Regions from separate parts of the Homo sapiens genome. Here region 2 is linked to region 1. Evidence: fine-mapped expression QTL. A gene starts in region 1. The other region holds a variant in brackets. All regions are shown on one strand. Distances are between the middles of the regions.

Region 1 (11,644 bases):
TTACAGAAAATTTGGAAAGCATGGGGAAAGTACAGGGGAATAAACACCAGCCTTATTCTCACCAACCAGAAATAATCCCCAGACATTGTTATTGCTCTAGTCTTTATGTATAATCCAGGTTATTTTCCTATTAGAAGACTAAAATCATGCCATTCATATCATTTTACAACCTTTTCTTTATTCATTTAATATTATTTCCATTTCTTCCATGTTATTCCAGAGTGTTCACATTTTTAATGCTCACATAATAATCAATTCTAAAGTAATAGCACAACTTATTTAAAAATTTTTCTGTTTCAGACATTTAGTTTCCAACCTTCTGCTGTTATAAATATGCAGAAGTGAACATTCTTATATACAAATTTCTGTATGTATCTCTGATTAGAAAAAACTAAAATGAAAAGCTCTTGGGTTATATGATATGTTTATTTTTAAAGTTTTGGATTCATACTATCAAAATGATCTCCAGGTTGGGTAAATCTATAGAACCAGCAGGGATATGTATGACAAGGCCTGTTCCCCATTCATTTAACTCTATTATTAGTTTTCTCAAAAACTACTACAAATATCATAAGTAAAAAATGTTCAGTCTTAATATTTATTTTAATTTACATTTTTTATGAATACAAATGAGAAATATTTTACATGCTTTATGGTGATTATTGGCCATAAAGTATCTCTTTTGAATTGCCAATTCATGACTTTCTTTTGTCTATCATTCTTAGAGTGTCATCTCTTATTTGACTGTAAGTTATTAATAGATGAATGATACTAATCCTTTCTTTTTATATTGAAAATATTAAATATTTTAACTTTTTCAGTGTCCTCTGACTTGTTTTTAATGTACAAATGTTTCAAGTATTCCAATCTACCAACAGTTTCCTTTTTTAATTTATTTCTTTGCTAATAAAGTCCTTTTCTACCTTGCTATCGGATATTTACTTACATATTTTCTAGTTTACTTTAAAATGCTATTTTTTAATAGTTAAGTCTTTAATCTTTGTTTCATTTTGGTATATAGCATGAGGTAAAGCTTTAATTTAAAAATTTCGCTCAAATAGCCAATTGTCTAAGGACTGTTTTATAAGTAATCTATCATTTTTCTACTTATTAAAATGTCGTCTTTAAAATATACTAATTAGGAATGTAATCATGGATGTGTTTCTGAGATTTCCATTTGGTTGCAATAATCTATTTTGCATTGGTACTTGCATTGAAGTATCAATATGATACTTCTTAAATTATGGGTTTATATGACATTTTAATATCTAAAACCCCTGTTTTATTATTCTTTTCTTCCCAAATTTTAGTGTTTCCAATTCCTTTGCTTTTCCATATTAGGTCAAGTTCTAAGTAACAACTAAAACCTTTAAGATATCTATTTAAATATATCTGTATCTATATAAACATATGTCTAAACATAGCTTTAGCTATATAAATCAATTAGAAAACACTACCATCTTTTCAATACCTTGTCTTCCCATTCAAGAACATGGATTATATCTCTATAAAAGTCTTCTATTCCATTCTTCAGTAAAGTTTCATGGTATTTTTATGTCTGTTACTTAATCTGTTGTGAATGGAATCTTTTATATTTTCTAACTCATGACTTGTGAGATACAGGAAATTCTACTGACTTTACAGAAGTCAATGGCAAATAATTATTTTGTCTCTTCTTTTCCAGTCTTTGTTTTCTTTCCTTATTTTACTGTTTTGCGTAGCACTTCCACAATAAGAGTTATCATGGCTCTCTTCATCTTATTCCTACACTTAAGAGGCTTTTATCAGAAAATATGACAAAATGAACAAAAGGAAACAAAATGAACCACCCAATTCACACCCATCCTCTTCACTCTATCATTATACTACTTTGTATATTGACAGCCCATTGTTTTACCTGACAATTTTTGTCAACAACTTGCTTCAGCATAAGCCTTACATTCCTTTAATAGATCAAAGCCTGGGCTGATTCAAAGGCTCACCTTGGACCCAGATGCCAGTCTGCCTCCTAGCTGATCATACTTCAAGGTAGTGATAGCTGCTTTGTGACCATTGAAGGTCACATTTCCTTCCCCACTCAGGAGACTGAAGATTCGGATCGACCCATCCTCATACCCAACAGCTAAGTGTAGCCCATCTGGGGAGGGGCATAAGCAAGTAACTTCTTGTTTAAGCCCCTGAAGGATAAGAATCTGAAATCATAAAAATTAAAAACAATGTAGAAGAGTTAAGCATGAACTCAAGGGAAAAGCATAGGAATACTCAGGCACAGTAAAATTAAGAGCACCAATAATTCCAAATTACTCTTATGAATAAAAATGAAACTCCACAATCCATTTCAAGTTTTTTAATATAGAAATTAGTATTTGTACTAGGCAATGAAACATTTAAGAAAAGGCTTAATTATTTTCTCCAAAGCCCTACGTTGTTGTAATACATATAAAAACTCCCTAGGCAATAAAATAAATTTAATCCCTTTAATCTAATTCTTAACCCTAGAACAACACTACGTGATTTTCAATAAAGGTTTATAAATTCCTTTAACTGAGACCCATTTTATAAGAAAATAATCTGTGTGGCAACAGAGTACTGCAGTGGTTTTAACCACAAAGGACTCTTGGTGGCAACAAGAATCAAAGTACTAACCTCTTGGGAATCACAAAATGAATGGACAATATCAAAATGCCTATATTTGGTTTGGCAAAAGTGGTAGGCTTAGGGAATTCAGTCACACAAAGTATCAAAGTCTACTTTAACAACACTTGGGCATTATCCATATTAGAAAAAGATTCTGCCAAAATAGACTAACCTTCCTTTTACATGCCTAATATTTTATAACCAGCTATAAGCATAAGTCGAGCTTGAAAAATAGAATTGGTAGAGAAAAAATACATCAGGAATAAATAATTACTGCAAATAATGACCTGTAAATATTCCAACAAATAGACATCTAAGAAATAAGCTCCTATTTCATTGTGGTTTTCAGAATTCAGTGGCGAAGAACACAAAGGAACTTGATGCTTGGCTAGCTAGACCTAAAGGAAAAAGATTTTTCTTCTAAGGGCACAGACACAAAAAAACTCATGATAAATAAATCAGAGCCCCCCCACTTCTACTACCTCTCCATCCTCAAATACCAATAAATCAGTATCAAACTGGTCATTTTAGGCTCACCTTCTCTCCTTTCCTTAAGTCCCAGATGAAAACGTGTTCACAAGCTGGTACTGCCACATAACGTCCTTTCTCACCACGAAGTGTCACAAAGACAATATTACCTTTTTGGCTGCCGATAACGCCAAAGACCGCACTAGCAACATAGCGTAGGTACTGCTTGGTGAGCCCCATGTTGTGATGTCTGATACCACAGGTGAAGCAATCTGTGCATATAAACAAAGAAAACTCAGCTCCTTGGGTGCCTTGGTTCTACTAGGTTAGTAAACACCAACTGTTTTTTTGTTTTTGAGACAGAGTCTCACTCTGTTGCCCAGGCTGGAGTGCAGTGGTGGGATCCTGGCTCACAGCTGACTCCACCTCCTAGGTTCAAGCGATTCTCCTGCCTCAGCCTCCCGAGTAGCTGGGACTACAGGCATGTGCCACCATACCCGGCTAATTTTTTTTTTTTTTTTTTTTTTAGTAGAGATGGGGTTTCACCATATTGGCCAGGCTCGTCTCGAAAGCCTCACCTCAAGTGATCCATCCGCCACGGCCTCCCAAAGTGCTGGGATTACAGGTGTTAGCCACTGCGCCAGAACAACACCAACTGTTGATCATGTCATTAAAAGCATGTAACTTGTGACTTCTTAATCTTTATTTACTCTAAATGAATCATTGACCTAAAATACCTGGACATCATTTTTTATTCAGTGTTGACTCAATATAATCCCTCATTCCTCAAGTTCCAAATTAGTCACGTTGTCATGCCCACCTCATGCATATCTGACATTATAGGCTCAATGCAGCTAAACTGATTTACTTCTGCCCATTAAACCAGCATCAAAGCTTTTACACAGAGATTGGCAGTCTGAGACTGAACATATTTTTCAATGAATATCTATTGAAAACCTACCAATTAGACAGGCACCATTCTAGACACTGGAAATACACTATTAACAAGGCAAAATCCCTAACCTCATGGTACTTACCTTCTTGTACAGTGGTTCTCTAACTCTAGTATACATCCAAATCACCTGGAGGGCTTATGAAAACATTGCTAGAAAACACCATCTCATCTCTTCTCCCAGCACCTGTTTCTGATTTCATAAGTCTGAGGTAGGGCCTAGAATTTTTCATTTCTAACAAGTTTCCAAGTGATGCTGCTATTGCAGTTCTTGGACCACACTTTGAGAACTACTAGTACATGAAAGTCTGTCCTTCATTTCAAAATCAGAGCAGCCACTTACCCTTGGCATAGAAAATGGTTGAGCAACTTGGCACACTATTTTTGGAAAGATGCCATAATTTCTGCACTTTTATTAAATTCACTGAAAATCCATAATCCACTGGTTATTTATAAAAGGGACAAGAGGTGAATGAAGGAGATAACAAATCAGTCCCATCTGTTCTTTACATGGAAGAGTAAAAAGTATCCCCAAAAAACACCCATGCAACTTAAAACACACAAAAATAAAGAAGTTACAGTCTTTTATGAGGAGCTGTTTCTTTTTGCTATTGTTTTTTGTTTCTTTGGTTGGTTGGCTTAACTCTACAGGGTCTTTCTAATTATCAAATGCTGTTTTAGTCTAACACAAAAAAAATTCAATCTCAACTCTCTGATAATATTTTCTGGTAATAATCACTTACTGGCCTCATTGCTTCTCTCACAGGAACCAACATAAAGCCAATTTAAAATCAAGGAAAGATAATATTAACATGGTGATAATGCTCTTAGCCTAGGCCATTTGATTAATTCTTTCCCAATTCCTCTTATTCCTCCAGACTCTGTAGTTGTTCCTTATGTTTGTCTGTCTTTGGCCATCTACCACCTCCTTCTACAGTGTTTTCCTTGGAGAATTCATATAGCATGCCTAGGTCCAGGGACTCCCATCTGTCTATTTCCAGTCCTTTCCACCTACATGAATACTAATTATAGAGTTTCCAATATTTACTGAACATCTCCACTTGAATACCTTATAGTTTCACATTTAACATGTCTATAACCAAGCCTACCTTACTTCTGGTACCCCTCTCTTTTCTTCTGACACTAAGACACAATTTTCCCAGCTCTTCAGGCTCAAAACCATTTAATAACCTTTGAATTATTAATAAAAAAATATTATTATAGCAGCCAAGATTTAGAGAGTGCTTACGCTATAGTAACTGATAACATTATGCAATTGTTTAATTACATACAGCAATTAATGAAACCGAGCTAACATATGCAAAGCACTTAGAAAAGCCTCTAGCACATTGTAAATATGAGCATAAAAAAATTATCCATAAGGACCTGGTATGGTGGCTCATGCCTGTAATGCCAGCACTTTGGGAGGCCAAGGCCTAGGAGTCAAGAGTTTCAGACCAACATAGGCAACACAGCAAGAACCTATCTCTACAAAACATTTTTTAAAAAATTAACCAGGCATGGTGACGCACTCGGGGAGGCTGAGGCAGAAAGATCACTTGAGTCCAGAAGTTCGAGGTTGCAGTGAGCTATGATCACGCCACTGCACTCCAGCCTGGGTGACAGTGAGACTCTGTCTCTAAAAATAAATAAACAAATTCTCCACAATAACACCACAAGGGAAGTCACTCTTCCTATCTCTATTTTACAGACAAGGAACTCAGACCCAGAGATGGCAAATTGCTAACTCAAAGTCATTTAGCAGCTAATTGCCAAAGCCAGATCCCAATCCAGCCAGTCTAACTCCAAAATTTCTGCTTTTAACCACTATGCTAAACTGCTTCTCTTTGCCTCTTTCTCTTTAGTCAATTCCACCTGACTGTTACTCTGAAACAGGATCCCTTTCTCTCCAGCACTTTCAGTTCCAGCTCTTTATCACTGGATTACTGCACTGATTTTCCACCTAGCACCTCCGCCTCCATGTTTTTCACTCTTTTCATTTAAACGTCATAATACTACCGACTAATCTTTTCAAATGAGCTTTCCCTATCCTAAAGCCTTGAAAAGGCTAAATCGTTTGCCAGTTTCCAAAAACTCATCCTATCTAACCCCCGTATTTCTCGAATAAACCTTCCTGTCAGGCTGGCTAGTTTCCTTCCTCGTCCCGCGACCTTGTATTCTTCATATTATTCGTTTTACTTAGAATAACATCCATGTTCTCCTCTACTTCTTTTAACTAATATTATCTTCTGAGGCCCACTTCCTTTCGAGTAAGCCCAATTCTAGCAGCCTTTTTTCATCGCCTCGATATTTAAACTACCTCCCATACAACTTGCACTGTTCACTTTGTTCCACGTGCACAGCTTTCGCCTCCTTTCTGACAGTTCACGACCAAACCTTCTTCCGAGACCCCATGATCTCCGCTTCCTAACCTACAGCCCCCAAAACGATGTTTCCAAGATGCACTGAAGGCCTGGACCGTGGCAACAGACCTGCCACACATTCCTAAACGAGTCTTCGGTCAGGGGAGGGTGACGGAGGGTTCCACACACCGAACACACGGTCATATCATCCTCAGGCCAGCCCGTGCACACGCACGGTCAGGCAGCTCTGCTCAGCACCCGCAACCGCGCCGAGTAGCTGAGGGGCTTCCAAGTACTGCTGTGGGGACGCCCGTAGTTACCTGAGTTCCCCCAGCCCTAGCAACCGGCCTTTAACACGCCCGTCTCGGCTGCTGCTGACATCACGAACGCCTCAGCCAGAATCTGCAAAATCGGAGCCGCAGATAATGCTCTCCGCCCCAACCACGCACCTCCAGGACTCACCTCAGCCTCCACGAGGCTCCCAGCCGATTGGACCCGCCCACAAGACCTGCCCCTTCCGGGTCCGTTCCGGAAGCCTCTTCCGCCAGAGGTTCCCTTTGCCTTCTAGGAGGAAATGACGGAGAAAGCCGGGCGCTGATTGGTGAGCTCTGGCCAGGAGCGGAAGCCGGTGTTTCGCAGCCCAGAGCATTTGCAGCTGGTCACTCCAGTCTCCTGGGACTTTGACTCGCCGTACTCGGCGCGCTCCTGCTGAGGGTCGCCGGAGATGTCGCTCGGCCGCCTTCTACCAGGAGCCTGATCCGTGCCGCCCGCCGCCCGGATGGGACCACCAGAGTGCTGTGAGAGGAGGGACTGAGGCCGGGAGGGAAGGCGGGGCGGAGAGGGCCGGGGGCGCGGTCCGAGGCGCTCGGGACTCGGCCCTGGTCAGGATTGCAGGCTGAGGGTTAGTTCTGTCACTTCTCTTGAAGAACGAGCCTGGCGCCACTTCCTCGCATGTTGGTTAGGTTCTTTCCCGAGGCGTTGTCGGGGACGCCGTCTCTACGAGAAGTGAAAGGGTGGGCAGTCGGCGGGCACTAGGAACAGTGGTGCTGTAGCCAAGGAGGCGGGCGCCCTAGGGTGCAGGTGAAATGGGGCAGGCGGGAGCTCTTGCTGGTTGTAGTCCCAAAGACAAGTCCGTGTTGCCGTTCCTGTGGACTGGACATTCTACGGAACCGAGAGCACCTCGGGTGAGGGGTGGGTAGACGCTGAGCCCAGGATGGTGCGTTGTCTAGGTTCCCGCAATCCCTGGAGTGACACTGGCCTGGCTTTGTGTTTCCGCTCTCTGGCCGCTTGAGGGGGAAGTGACCAAGGCTGACTCCTCCTTGTTTGCTCACTGAGACTTAAGTGCTCTTTCACCAAGTGGGAATTAGCTTTTCTCTCTTGCATTTCTGCTACTTTTATTCTTGAGCTGCATAGAAGTGTTTAGAAATGAGTTCTGATGTCTAGAGCTGTGCAAAATTAAAGCTAACATAGCTGTACAAAAGAAGATCCTGCCGGCGCTTCTTGAACAAGGTATCTGCAGCCAGCCTAGAAATTAGACTTTTGTCTACATTATCTGATTTTCTTTAGAGTTTCCTGAGCTTAATGCATGTTCAGCTAATCTTCCATATTCAAGAAAATTGCAATAGCAAAGAATGCGTATGATGAGACTGTGGACAGCTGTAGCAGCATAGGAGTTTTGAAACAAGATTGCTGTGTATTGGATAAATGAGAAGGGAAGAAATTGTGGCCACAAACTATTATTTTAATAAGCTTGGTGGGAAAGGGAGCATTTGAGTGGGTATGTATGGTTAATATCCCTGACAGGTGCTGTGCATTATATTATTATGGGGAGAAGTGTGTGCTTCAATGGAAAACTACATAGTTTAGATTCTATCTTAACACCCCTTGGAATAACTAATTCTAAAAAAGCTATTTTTCAGTTACGTAAACTAGGTAAGTGACATCAATGCTAAATAATTATTGTCAAGACATGCGAATTCTCTCAGAGATTCAGTGGAAGTTTTGCCTCCTTTTGCACATTTATTTCAATATTCCTGCTCTAAGGTGTCTAATTCTGGGATTTTCTTTATCTTCTCTGCCTGGTTCCATTTTGAGTTAAATAAAATCTTGAACACGGGTTTGGTTTTATATTTGAATGAGTCATGATTTTACCTTTTCTTAAAAAACTATCTTAATATTATTAAATATTATGGGATGGGACAACCACAGATGGAAAAAAATGATTTTAATAAGAGTTGGTATCAGAGCAACTGTGAGTGGTAAGGTAATGCATCTTACAAAATTCCTTATACAATGTTTCAAGGATGTAACTCTACTTCCTTATTTAAGTTTCAAAATGCCTAATATATCAATATTTACAATTAAAACATAGTGCAGTTCATTTAATATGAAGGGGTACTACTAATTTACTGTTAGGATATGTTCTTTGGGTGCTTTTGAATTATGATGTTAAATTTGACCCAAGCCATTGACAAGCTTAGGAATGTTCTTGTTATACTGTATTTATTGTTGACATATTTGACTACTTCAGTTAGTCTTCCAATCTGAAAATCTTTTTTAAAAAATGTCTTTCTGATGGCATAAAATGATTCTTAAGTATGGTGTTGGATGGTGGCATAAAATGATTCTTAAGTATGGTATGCACACATATCCTCATGTACTCTGAACTGTTAAATATTGAAATACAAAGTCATAAAGAATGGTAAACCCGGTAATTAATGGCGGTCAAGTGCATGCACCAGCTCTCTTTGTACTGTTGTTATCCAGGCTGGTCTGATCAATGTAAGCATTTTGAAAGACAGGTAAACAGGTTAAAAGTTACCATTTTTCTCTCTTAAATGATATCATTTTCTTTCTATCCAGAAAAAAAGTTTTTTTTGAGATGGTGATCCAAGGTATTATGCCCAATTTTGCCCAGTTTTGAACAATAAAATCTGATCTCTCTAGCCAATCCAATTATTCATATTAAGCAGTATTTAAAGGACTTCTTAAACTAAAAGATGACAGGATTTGAGGAAAAAAAAAACAAGTTACAGTGTAATGAGAGCTGTTTACACTGCACCATTTGAATTATAAAAGATACATAGTGGGTTATCTTTGTCTTTAGGTCCTCTTCACTAAAGTACTGAAGATCATATGGATATGGAAATAGATTTGATTCATTATGGAATCTTCTGTTTGTCCCATGTAGACTTTTTGATCCTTGGAAATTAATGTCTTGCTTCAAGAGCCTTTTTTTTTTTAACTAGGGCTTAGTGTTTGTTTATGAACTTATTAAAAGTACAGAGCTGATCAACTGATTTTCAGTGGACAGTCTTGCTCTCCTTTAATGTTAGCAAAAATTCTGGCTGTGGCTATAGATTACTGGGTGTAGGAGCCTTCTCCTCCTCCCTTTGTCACTTAAGCAATCTGTTTGCATTCTATCACTGAGATTCTAATTCAAATTTATTTACAAATCTACTTGTATGAGCTCATATACAAATATTCTGGGGAGTGAAAGGATCTGTATCTTTCATGTGATTCTCAAAGGGGCCTGTGACCTTGAGAATGTTAAAAACCACTGTTCTCTCAGGGATCAGGTTTTTCTGCCTAGCTTGGGTTTGTGGCTCCATTTACTGTATGTATTACTAAGGTGTATATGTGTTTAGGGGAAGGAGAGATTCAAACCTCTTTTTGGTGAGAAACATCAATTCTGTTTAGAGATGGAGTTGAAAAAGAATTCAACCTCTGTTAAATACTGTGACACTTCATAAAATGCCATTAAATTTTGTCCTACAATAAGAGCTATGAGCATTACTTTTACTTATTTAACATCCAATATCTTGTGGGTCACAATTACTTAAAAGCTAGGAAAAGGATCCAACAAACTCTACTGACCAGGTATGATCAGGGATATAGGAGAACCACCAGGGTATAATGTCAAAGAAGATAATAGAGTTTTGAGGAGGAAATGATCAGTAATAAATGTGGATAAAATTGGATTAATTCTTGGATTTGACATTTGGGAAGTTATTGTTGAATAGAGTAGTTTTCGTATAGCTGTAGAGCGGAAGCAAAACTGCAGTAGGTTGGGCAAATGTACGAAGAGGAAGTAGAGCTACAAAACAAATTACTCTTAAAAAGTCAAGTGGTAAAAAGGAGTTTAGTATTCTGAAGAAGAAATGAAGTAGAAGAAATAAAGGAGGAAAACCTTTTTGAGAACAGGAGGATTGAGAGGAAGGAAAAAGCCAAGATGTAATTGTAAAAGGAGAATTTATGTTGTAACACTCTCTTAAGAGGAGAAATGGTCAAATGAAGGAAATTGATTAAATTAAAGTGATTTGGTGGGCTTAAACGTGTGGAATATACCCTCAAATCGTCACTTGGAAGTTGGAAACAGTGAATGATTTTGAGTTGGAGGGAAGTTAAGGTAATTGTTCTCCTATGCAGTTTTGACACCAGTTATCTCATTGAATGCTCACAATAATCTTAGGAGAATTACCCTTATTTTAGAAATTAAAAAACTGGTTCAGAGTCAAAGATAACAAAACTATTAGATGATGGTCCTGGATCCAAACTCAGACCCTATGATAACAGAGTCCAAATTCTCACATCGAACCATACTGTCTCTGCCTCACTGTGTAATTGTGTGTGGAAATATTTACCTTAAAATACTAAAGAAACTGGATTCAAAATTGTACCAGTATGATTTTACCTATCACAGAAAAAGGTAGTAACTACATCAAAAGTTGAGGAATTTTTTCCTCCCCCTTAATTTTGGTTTCTTTTCCTTCTTTTTGTTTTGTTTCTTTTTTGAGATAGGGTTTTGCTCTGTCACCGTGCTGGAGTGCAGTGGTGTGATCTCAGCTCACTGCAATCTCTGCCTCCTGGGCTCAAGCAATCCTCCTACCTCAGCCACCTGAGTAGCTGGGACTACAGATGCATGCCACCACACCTGGCTAGTTTTTTGTATTCTTGTAGAAATGGGGTCTCACTATGTTGCCCAAGCTGGTCTTGAACTCCTGGGCTCAAGTGATCTCCCCGCCTCAGCCTCCCAAACTGCTGGGATTACAGGTGTGAGCCACTGCGTCCAACCGATTTGGTATTTTTCAAATGTTCTGTAAGCATGTATTACTTAGAGTCAGAAAGAAAAGTTATCTTAAAAAAGCAATTTTGTCCTGAAAGTTGGCATTCAAGTTTACAAACTGAAAACTGTGTTTGTGTTTAATGGATTTGTTTTTAGATT
Region 2 (11,644 bases), 230 kb before region 1:
GCTTAAAGGTAGCACAGCAGCTTCTGCTTCTGGGGAGGCCTCAGGAAGCTTCCAGTCATAACAGAGAAGGCAAAGGAGGAGGAAGTGTCTTACATGGCAGGAGCAGGGACAAGAGAGTGAGCGGAGAGATGCCATGCCACACACTTTTAAATGACCACATGTCACGAGAACCCACTCACTATTGTGAGAATAGTACCCAGAGGATGGTTCTAAACCATTCATGAAAAATCCACCCCCATGACCCAGTCACCTCCCACCAGGCCCCACCTCCAACACCGGAGATTACAACTGAGCATGAGATTTGGGTGGGGACATAGAACCAAGCCATATTAATCAGTAAATCCTGTTGACTCTGCCTTTGAAATGTACCTAAAATCTCTACTCCTGTATCTAAAATCTATTCAAGTTAATTATCATCCTCAAATTATTACTTCTGATGTTTAGTTTTACTTTTATTTTAATTATAATGCAATTCAATTTTTTGTGTGAATAGTTTTTAATACACATAGTATATAAATGTAAGATTAAATATTTAGAATGAAAACCCACAGTAAAGAGACTTCAAAATTTGGTTATTTTTCTTAATGTTTCTTTAAGTATCATAAATAGGTAAATATTCTAAATTTCAGGAGATTAAAAGAAAAAATCAGTCACAACTGGAGGCATGTTCTGATATTGTACAAAAATCATTATAACATAAGTAAACAATTTGTATTTCTAAAATGAAAAACAACCTGAGTCTACTTAAAAATTGATTAATTTATTATTGCTAATGATATAAATGTTGGATGGAAATTAAGTTCAAATTCTATGTTGTTAGGAGCTGAACGGCAAAACACTTTTAAAAAAATCAGAGAATTTGTTAAAGCTCATGTTTCTAGTAAAGAAATTTTGCAATCATTAATGAAAGAAAACTTAAAGAACATCATGTATCAGCTTTATGCATTAAAGTTTTTGAAATAAAAATTTTATCAAAGTGTATCAATAAAGTAATTAAAAGACATTTTTGAACATATCATCAGAACTTTTAACATAATGTGTTATGTAGTTAAACATAAGTGAGCATTGTCAGACATGAAATATTTAGTTGAGCCTCAAAAAGTAATATCTACACAGATGTACCATTGCAATGTAGATTTATGGTCCTGACTTTGTCAAAGCATTTGTCTACTGAAATAAGAAAGCAAACTTTTTGGAAAACGTATAGTACAGTGAAATTTTAATCACTATTAATAAAGCTTTAAATATTTTATGTAAAAGTATTTTAATAATATTTAACATGCAAAATTTTAAGATGCTGAAGATGGTAAAAGTTTTTTGTTGATCTGGTGGGGCTAGACAAAATAGCACCTGCAATAGCTCAAACAATATCATTGATTACCAAGAAAAATGGTTTCAATGATAAGTATTTACACAAAAATTGTGCCAAGGTGGTGACATGCAGAAGGTCTGGAGTTTTAGCCTGCAATTTTAGAAAAAAAAATTAGACAAAATGACAAGGAAATAAATCTTCCAGCACTGAACCCTGTGCTTTTAAGTTTTACTGTATAATTTATTTCATGTCTTGTATACAAATAGTTAAATAAGATCCATCTATGGATGATTTCCAGGGATCCCCACTGTTAACATTTCTCTGTCCAGAGAAGTGCCCAATTAACCTTACCTTTGTCTTTAAGCCAGTTTTCTAGCCATGACAAAACATTTCCTATACTTCCATGGTAACTCAATATTTTTCATACAGAAACTTGTAAAATGCTTTCAAAATGTTTGAGTGAATTCTGTTTCCTGGCTTTCCCTTGTCCTCACCCTTCACCATCATTATTCTTTGTGTTGTTCTTAGTGTGTTTTCTGTTAAATATGATTGTAATGTGCCGGTTTGGGTGGCATAGACACTGTAACACTTTCTCCAGCAGCATATATTGAGTAGAAATAGAAAGAAAACCTCCACAATTATACAAACACCAATGAAAAAGCATGTGATCCTAAAAATGTATATGACTTCATGTATGTATATAATATTTGGGTTTTTGTTAAACTAGTTTAAGGTTAGTAATATTAAGTTCAACCACCTCTGTCTTCACATCAAATATTTAGGATGCTAGGTAAAAAGAAAGATTTCGGCCGGGTGCGGTGGCTCACGCCCGTAATCCCAGCACTTTGGGAGGCCGAGGCGGGTGGATCAGGAGGTCAGGAGATTGAGACCATCCTGGCTAACACAGTGAAACCCCGTCTCTACAAAAAATACAAAATTAGCTGGGCATGGTGGCGGGAGCCTGTAGTTCCAGCTACTTGGGAGGCTGAAGCAGGAGAATGGCGTGAACCCGGGAGGCGGAGCTTGCAGTGAGCCGAGATCGCGCCACTGCAGTCCAACCTGGGTGACAGAGCGAGACTCCGTCTCAAAAAAAAAAAAAAAAAAGAAAGTTTTTTTTTTTTTAATTTACACTTGTTGTTACTGTAACTGTCAAGTCAAAGCACCCTCTAAAAAGCCTATTGTTTAACTTGCCATGCATATCTTATGAATTTGGCACCAACCTAAGAAAATATGTGAAAAATGGTTTATTACAGTCATATTTCAACTCTTGATGAAGTAGCGTCGTTGTCTGGGGTAAATACCCGAGGTTCTTTGCCTCATGCCAAGGAAATCAAGGACACAGACACACATGGAGTGAGGTTAAGAGTGGAGGTTTAACTGGTAAAAGAAACAGAAAGGAGAACAGCTCTCTCCTGCAAGAGAGAGGGGCGCCCAAGTGGGACTTCTGGCGCCCTTGCACCAGAAGTTTCGGCATCACTTGGGAACTTGTAAGAGATGAAAATCCTTAGGCCCCAACCTAGATTTACTGAATCAGAAACCCCAGGACGACCGTGATGATTTGTGCTTTAACAAGTGTGAAACTGATCCACACTAGCACTCAAGACATGCTCTAAGGCCGTGATCACAGTGCAAGTATTGCATTACTTGTGTAATACAGACACTAAGTTTTCATAGGCAGGCAGAGGACACTGTTGGGCTGAGACACTTAGGGAAATAGTCACAGGTGAGGCAGGACTTTGACCTGGAAGGAGGGCATTCTGAATAAAAGGACCAGGCTGAGCAAGGCAGAGAGCTGGGAAAACACAGGACGTGTTTGAAATACCACAGGTAACCACTAACAATAAAGTGTGTGCTTTACACAATGGTTATTCCTCAAAACAACCAAAAAAGTAGTATTCCCATTTATGTGAAGAAATTCAGACTCAAGAATTTACACAGAGCAATTTGCCTGAGAGCAGTAAGAGTTTAGAAAAGTAATGAAGATATGGTGTTAGAAATATGTTAGGAAGAGAATGTAAAGGGCTTTGAATTCCACACTTCAGAGTTTGGGCTCTACATGAAGGAAGACACAGAATGATAAAGTTTATGTCTCAGAAAAACTAATAGATTGGAGATGAGAGTAGCTGGAAGCTTAAACAGACCCTATAGATGGTGTTTTCAATAGTTCAGATTCAAAGTGGTTATAGGTAGAACTAGGAGAATAGTGATGAGAATAAAAAGGAAGAGACAGATTCAAAAAGCTCTTGGAAGAGGGCAACTGTGATTGCATATCTGAGAGAATAATGGGGGAGGATTTTAAGTTATGATGACTGGGAGAAATGGCCAACTTCAGACTGACTGACAAATTTAGTAGAATGAACTTAGTTTTTATTGTTTGTGATAGGGAGGTTTTTTTGTTTGATTGTTTTGTTATGTTAGGGTTTGGAGAGATATGAAGAGCTCAGTTTTTAGACATGCTGACTGTGAGATTATGGCAGAACATTAAAGTAGAAATGTTCATCAAGAAGTCAAAAATACGGACTATATAGCTCAGACTGCAAAGTTGGAGATGTAGACTAGGGAATTGTCAGAGCAGAGGCAATAGCATGGGAGTAGTTATAATATCCATAGCTAATATGTGCCAAGAGAACAGAATTCTGTGGGATACCTAAAAGGTCCTTGTTTATGGGACAGAAGAAGAGAAAGAGCCTGATGGTCAGAGAAGGAACAGCCAAAGGAATAAAGACAGAATGAGAACGGGGTGGTGTCATAAGAGTCAAGTTAGAGAGAAGGTCACAAAATGGCAATTCAAGTCCCCAACATACAAACACCTTGGGAGAATAGGCAAGGCAACCATATCTGGTAATGAGGACATAATCAGTGATCTTCCAGAATGCAATTTCAATAGGGTGTATGGTGGTGGTGCTGGTGGTGAGGGAAGAAGTGTAGTGGGAGTGTGGGGATTAAGGACATTATGGCCTTTCAGGATGTGGGAGCTTTTGGTGTAGGTCACATGTTTGGGGGAGTTTGACTATGAAGTAAAAAGGTCATAAGGGAAAATGGTTAGTGGGGAGTCTGGGCTTAGGTGAAGATGGCCATGTATGTGTGAAGTAGGGATAGAGAGGAAAGAGGAGTGGATTGAAAACAAGGCGAGGCGAGGGAGAGATGGGAAAATTGAAGGAACACAGTTAGAGAAGAGGTCATTTGCTCTAGTAAAAAAAAAAAAAAAGGAAGAAGGAATCAGAATGTCTTCTTCAGCCCAACAAAAAGGAGTAAGTTCTTGGGGCCAGTGAAGGATGTTTTCAGATGGAAAATGTAAAAAGGAGAGGAAACCGCGGCAGGAAAACCTTGTGCTTCTCAGGCAGTGGGAATGAGGTCACCACATAGACAGACAGTGGACAAGCAGGACATGGACAAAGAATTCCTTCCACTAATTCTTCAAGTGACCTCTGCTCGTGAGGCTTTTCCTAAGACACAGGGAGAGATGGGTTCTAGGTCAATGCGTATCACCTTGTATTATAAGTGTTTCTATATCTGTTTCCTCTACTAAACTGTTGGTCTTTTGAGAGCAGACACTTTTTTTCAGTACTTTTTTAAATGCAGAAAAGCACGAAAAGATAATGTGGCAAGCACATTTGTACCCTCACAAAAAATTATTTTCTTTTTTGAAATAAACCTGTAAAATTAAAGCTGAAGAACTCTTGTCCTCACCCCCATTCTATGTTCCATTTCTTTCTCTTTCTTCTCAGAAGCAAACACTAATATGGATGGAATACATATCCTCTTAGCCTATGTATCTATTTATCTATATTCATGAATAACATATAGTATTGTTTATTGTATGATTTCACTAATAGTTAATATTTACTGTGTGAGTACTTATGTTGCATGTGCTGCCCTAGAAATAAAGGATGTAAACATAAATAAGACAAGAGCAATTAAAATAAATGAACTAAATCTGTATATCTCAACATGGATAGACATCAAAACATAATGTTGAAGGAAAAAAAACAAATTGCAGAATTAGTTAATACAATATGAAACAATTTGGGCTCCATGTTATTCAATTTTGCATCCTTCATTTCTAGGGCAGCACATGCAA[CG/G]TAGGTACCCACGTAGTAAATATTAATTATTAGTAAATACATTTGGATGAACAATATGATAATAGAAATGAACAATTTGTACAGTGCTTCATAGCTGCGAAATACGTTTACATGTAATCTCTTTTCACCTTTTTTGTGTATTTCTCTTCCCAGGCTGATGCTGTTTAAGGGAAGTGATTATGCCTTATGCCTATTCCCAATGCCATGCCCATTTCAATTTTTGTAACCCCTCAGTAAATATTAGCTGAATGAATGAAGGACTTTCTGCTCTAAGTATTATTATTATTTTGCTAAGGTCCAGGTTGTGAGTACTTAAATGTTTTTCCAAGGCCATGTGGTTGGAATCAGGACTAACAATCAGGTTTTCTGATACTAAATCCAGTGCTCTTTTTATTACACCATTGAAAGAGCTATTGTAAGGACTCTATTAGGGAATCAATATGAGAGGAATAATTATAATGAATTACTGCCCTAACGTATCCAATAAATAGATTCCATGTACCTGTGTAATTGGAGAAAATTAAGAACCATAACCAGATCTAGGGCTTGAAATTTATTCTAATCATTGACTGGGGATACTTTGTCACGTGGTCCTTAAAGGGGTTTTATATTATGAAGGAGATATGTGAATTATGAGGGTGTGTAGGATTACACAAGTGAGGGAATGAGTGGGAAGCAGTTTCACTCAAGTAGAACTGCTCTTGCTAAGGTCAGCAGTGACCTTCTAATTGCCTTTGACTACATACACCATTCCTCCCCTGGCTTTAGTGACACCTTCCCCCCAGTTCTCTTTCACCTGTCCTTCTTGTTTGCCTCCTAAGAAACCCTTCCCTGGCCGGACGCCGTGGCTCACGCCTGTAATCCCAGCACTTTGGGAGGCCGAGGCAGGCAGATCATGAGGTCAGGAGATCGAGACCATCCTGGCTAACACGGTGAAACCCTGTCTCTACTAAAAATACAAAAAATTAGCCAGGTGGGGGCGGGCGCCTGTAGTCCCAGCTACTCAGGAGGCTGAGGCAGGAGAATGGCGTAAACCCGGGAGGCGGAGCTTGCAGTGTGCCGAGATCCTGCCACAGCACTCCAGCCTGGGCGACAGAGCGAGACTACGTCTAAAAAAAAGAAGAAAAAAAACCTTCCCTATTAAAAAAAATGATAATTGCATGAAACTCTAAAGAAAGTTACAAGCATTCTCAGAAGAAAGATCTCAGGAACTACTTCAGACACCTCCACCCTCCACAATTTTATCTTCCCTCCCACTAGGATTGATTGATCTTGATTAATACTTTTACCCTCCACTTGTCTGTTTAAGGTCTGACCTCATTTTCCTTACCCTATGACAGGTCTCCACTGCCTTTTACTTTCCTAGCACAATTGCTATGTCCTGAGCAGCTGGAGAAGTCAGGATTACTGCACAGCTCCAGCTCTGGACACTAATTCCCTCAGTAAAACCCAGTCAGGGCCACTGATGTTAAATAGCCTTTACAAGAAATAGTCTCTAGAAATTTATTTCATGATACAAGCATTGTTTGCTCATTTTCACACTCCCATCTTAGTCATTTTGTGTATCCCTTAGTTTGTTACATCATATACATTTAGTCATACTAATGTAATAAATGCTTGTTGAGCTGCACGACTACTCATTTTTGTTGAATTGAGGTAGGGCACAGATTCCCTGACACTATTCTTGCTCAAGTTACAGTCTCATAGTTTTTCTGACACACCCCTAGGGAGTTATTGGAGAAATTCCCATCATTCCCTGCTAGCATAATACAAACTCAGCTCCCTAGAAGATCTGGCACTGCTCCCTGGATCCTCTTTCTTTAACTCTTCTTTCTCACCCTATCATTTGAAGACCATATTTGTAGACCTAAAAATCAGAACACATGGTCAGACACATCCTGCTTTCAGATATTAGGGATATTATGAGATATGTAATTGGGCTGCCAAAATATTCCCATTGCTTGGACATTTTATTGAATTTGGGGAAGAATAAGATAGAGTTAGTGTAATCAGGGCAATCTTGTGTTTGTAGAAGTAGCCCTGGATATGCCCCACTCAAGATGGATGTAGAAATTAAATTATATCCATGGCTTTGTAGTAAACAAGGGATAAATGAAGACGCTTGTATTCACTGTAAGAAAATAAGTTGTCCATGAGATTGAATTAACCAAGCAACAGCATGGATGGCTCATGAGAATGAGTATTGGTCGGTTATTTTGTTTCTTCTGGGTAGCCCTAGTGCCAAGGCACAACAAATCCATGAAACATACACAAAGCTTAATGTATAAATGACATTTACAATACAGGAAGGAAGATAGAAAAACAAAGCAAAAGGGCTGCAGTAGAGTAAGTAATGAGCTAACATTAAGTCTTAAAAATATATCTTATTTTTTAATGTGGAAGATAGTGATGCAACATTGAAGGAACTCAATCAAGGTCAAAGAAGGTCTCGTGCTTGAGGAAGGAGTTGATGAAAGGTTGTAGCTTTTAATATATGATGATGAAAAGAGATCTCCTTTTAGGGCGGGTGAGTCTCTGATTCCAGTTTTACATTTCTGGAGCAATTAGCAGGACTCCTCTTGGCTTTTCTTGGTCTCCTCTGTTAGAAGAATGTCTCTGATATGTAATATTTGTTTCAAAACCCAAAGAAGCTCGTTTCCTTTTGAGGTTTGCCTTACTTTTTATGTTCTGAAGTTCATTTTGAACCTCAGATTTTGCTCCAAGCCATAAAACTGGTTGGATTGTACTAACATAATGGAGCCGTAATTTCAGCCCACTGTTGGGGGTGGGGAGATAGTTAAGGTGTGTAGTGGCTCTGTGGTTTCTCTGTGGAGTAGAATTCCCTGCAAAGCTTTTCCATGTGGTGTTTTAATAGCTGTCTTAAAACTCTCTGATGCATGGAGCAAAACCGAATTAAGCTCATGTGCTAGATTGGTGGGATGGGCCAAGAACTCTGTGAAAAACGAAAGAAAAACAATCAAACAGCCTAAGCCAGAGGCTACACGGTACAAAGAAGATCCCCAGGACATATCTAAATTCAAAATTCAAAATTACTGCAGCAGTCACCTCTTTTAACCCATTTTTGCAGAACTTTCTACAGGAAATTAGAATATTTCCCTTGCATATATTAATATTTTACATTTATGTGGTACTCAACAAATTTACAAAAGGACCCTAAGTGTATTCATTCTTGGGTCCTGCAATAGTCTTTTGAAAGTTGTATTAATAGATTCATAATTTTAAATGAGAAACTGAGTCACAAAGATAAGCCCAAGGTCATTTGGCTAAGAAACCACAGAGGCAGAATTTGACACTACCCAAACCTCTCTGCATACCTACACCAGAACTTCAATAATTTTAATTAGTCACATTTAATATTTATGAAGACAAGGAAAACCAGCCAGACAGTGTATACATGCACAGTAAAGCTGTTTCTAGACTACTGTGTTTTCATCAGTGAATATAAGCCATGTACAGTGTTGTCTAAACATCAAAGGAATGCGCTCTTTCTCTAATTCAAATTCTGGGTGATTCAGAGGCATGACTCCTTCCAAAGTGCTGAGTTTGGCTGATAAAATGCCACATACTCAGTCAGCCCTCCCATGCTAAGCATGTGTAAAAGTTCTCTTTAGTGTGTGGTTTTGGCTGCTAAGTTCAAGAAACATTTATTGAATGCTTCTATATGCTAGGCACATGGGTGAAGCAGGAAGTTGTCTAGGGGTCTGTTCTGGTATAATTCTAGGGGAGCCTTTTCCACTGGACCAGTCCACAGCCTTAAATACCGCCATTAGCAGGGCATCACTTTGAGTTAGTCCAGGAGTCACTGGGATTCCTTTTTGGAAATGCAGATATTAGAAGAAATACTTCAAAATGGTCCTAGCACTAAAGCCTCTGGGTGTGTATATATATATCTATAATCAAATCAACTCTTAAGACTCTGAGCTGAATAGCAGGTAATACCTAGGAGAAGGAGTTAGTAGATTCTGCTAAGGTCTGTAATGAGCCCTGTGAAGCCAGAATATAGCGGCAGGCCAGGAAACGTGTCTTATTGCACTAAGGCTCCCTATCAAAAATAAACTTCAATTTATTTCTTTTGTTTTTATTTTAAGAACTAGCGCTGCATGACATCCATGTTTTAGACCTTGATGCCCAAAATTGATCAGATTAATATTTGCAGTTCAACCAGCAAACAACTGATTCATTTTCATATTTTTTAAGCCAAGTAAGCAGATCCACATCTCTAATGAAAAGTAGCCTGAGGCTGCTTTCTTCCCCTAGTCCTCTGTATGGCCACCTCAGAGGTGATCATCTTCATAGTCAGCCAGTGCACAAAATCTAAAACTCAGTGTCTTCTCATTTGACTCTAATTGATAATTGGTTTGTTTCTATGGTTGGTGATAGGTTAATGTCTCTGGCAGACTTGCACAGGGCACAAAATGACTTGAAGATTTCTCCTGCCACACTCACATTCTCTTCCATGGCTCTGAAAAAATTATTATACATTCCTTTAGAATTTTAAACATAATATGTTCATGATTCTGGCCCTCTCTTCCAAGGACCCAAAATACTTTAGAAACACGTCAGTTAACAAGTTTATTATTATCCAAGAGAAAATTATTATACAAACTCTTGTTCAAACTCATATTTGCCTTTTTGTGATGCAACTGTTGATATTCTGATTGATTTTTTTTCCCTGGGTCTCCCATAAGTTCTTCACACATGAAGCAGCTTGCATGGACTAGCCATGTTTGTTCTAATGACCAACAAGAGCAGAAGCCCCCCAAAATAATATCTTTAAGGATGGCTAGGATTATTGCTAGGTGCTGTACTGAGAAGGGCTTTCTATAGGTTTTCTCATTCAATCTTCACAACAATCCCAATAGACAGGTACTGTCATTATCTTCATTTATGCATGAGGCACAGAGAAGTTAAGTAACTTGCCCAGGGACACACAGCTGGTTTACTGAGATTCGAATCTGGGCTCAGTGAATCGAACCCAGGCTCCTAATTACTGTGCCACAGTGACCCATGCTTCTTCAAGGGGCCACCACAGTATGAAGGAATCTAGTCATTTGTTGGCAGGGGGTGCTTAGGGATCTCCCAGATCATTGGCCCCATTGTGCAGATGCCTGAGTGGGGAAGTAGGGAAATGGTCAGGAGGAAAGGAGAGCCCTGGAGTGGTTTGCCCCTGCTCCTGTCAGTGGTCTCTATACTTGCCTTGTCACCTGCTTTTCATAGAGCCCATTTTGAAGGATATTACTTAAGGCTAGGTCACACTTGAAGCAACATCAGCAGACTCTTAATTATAGATCCACATAGCGCATTGCTGCAGAGTGTGTCTTTGGGATGGGGGTGGGGTTTGTATGCAATAGAGGGAATAAATCTGCTTTGCCCTCCTTAATATTTTCTCTGAGACAGCTTTGGTCTTCCCAATGAAAATCATAACTAAGTCAGTCTTAGACATGCAGCTCTTCCTGGGATGGCAGCTGTGATATGCTGGTAAATGTTTAGTAACCTTCTCCAAGTGAACATCTCTGATTTGTAGTGTTTGTCATCTCCTTAGTTTGAGTACTCCTACTGTAGCATATTTCAAATTATTAAGGCAATCACACTGAAGAGAGTTGGGAAGAGCCATGAGCAATCGGCTTCAACACATCGCTAAACAGAGGTCAAAAGATTAGGGTGAATCAAGCAGTAGTTGCTGCAGGAGGCAGATGTCAGGTTATAGCCCTCTCCCAGATTATGGAACATGACAGCACACACTGTGTGCTGCTTCAGTCTGCCTCCCTTCTCTCCCCACTCCACCTTGATATTCTTCCACCATAAATCAAACTCATAAGAATTTCTAAGGCACCCTGAAAAAAAAAAAGAAATCACAGAATTTGCAGCCTATAGGTAGTAGGTTGAGAAAGGAAGAGGGAGCAGGCCATCAAGATGCCTTCTAATAGGAGACGGGAGAAAGTAGGAAGGAGAGAGAGGGGAGGAATGGTTTTATAGGCAATGCAGATTTGGATGTGAGTCTTTGGCTTTTTTCTCCTATCTGGAGGAGCATCCTCCTTCCCCTGACATCTGCTTGCATGTCTAAGTCACTCCTGGGAAATATGTCTAAGCAGAGAAATGGCCTCAAGGCCCAATTCCCAAACCATTGTTACTGACCCCTGGTATGGACCATGTTAGATCAGATATAGTGTATTCTCCTCCTAAAGGACTCCAGGGCCATGGACTGAATACCCTGCAGTTTCCTGACATG

Evidence for each region.
Region 2: its variant is fine-mapped to the expression of GDAP2 in whole blood (TOPMed, PIP 0.93).

The regions. Positions count from the first base shown.
Region 1 is chr1:117,925,021-117,936,664 of GRCh38, reverse strand. GDAP2 (ganglioside induced differentiation associated protein 2) reads left to right here and starts at 7,044. Exons shown (of 14, transcript NM_017686.4): 1 at 7,044-7,217. It overlaps WDR3 (WD repeat domain 3), which reads right to left and starts at 6,926. Exons shown (of 27, transcript NM_006784.3): 1 at 6,883-6,926; 2 at 3,175-3,377; 3 at 1,983-2,192. The coding sequence starts at 3,345. RefSeq lists enhancers at 6,774-6,943, 6,825-7,119.
Region 2 is chr1:118,156,418-118,168,061 of GRCh38, reverse strand. All of the region lies in intron 1 of SPAG17 (sperm associated antigen 17), which reads left to right. Among named protein-coding and RNA genes, the nearest start is that of SPAG17, 23 kb to the left of the region's middle. The variant CG/G (reference allele first, on the strand shown) is at 5,394.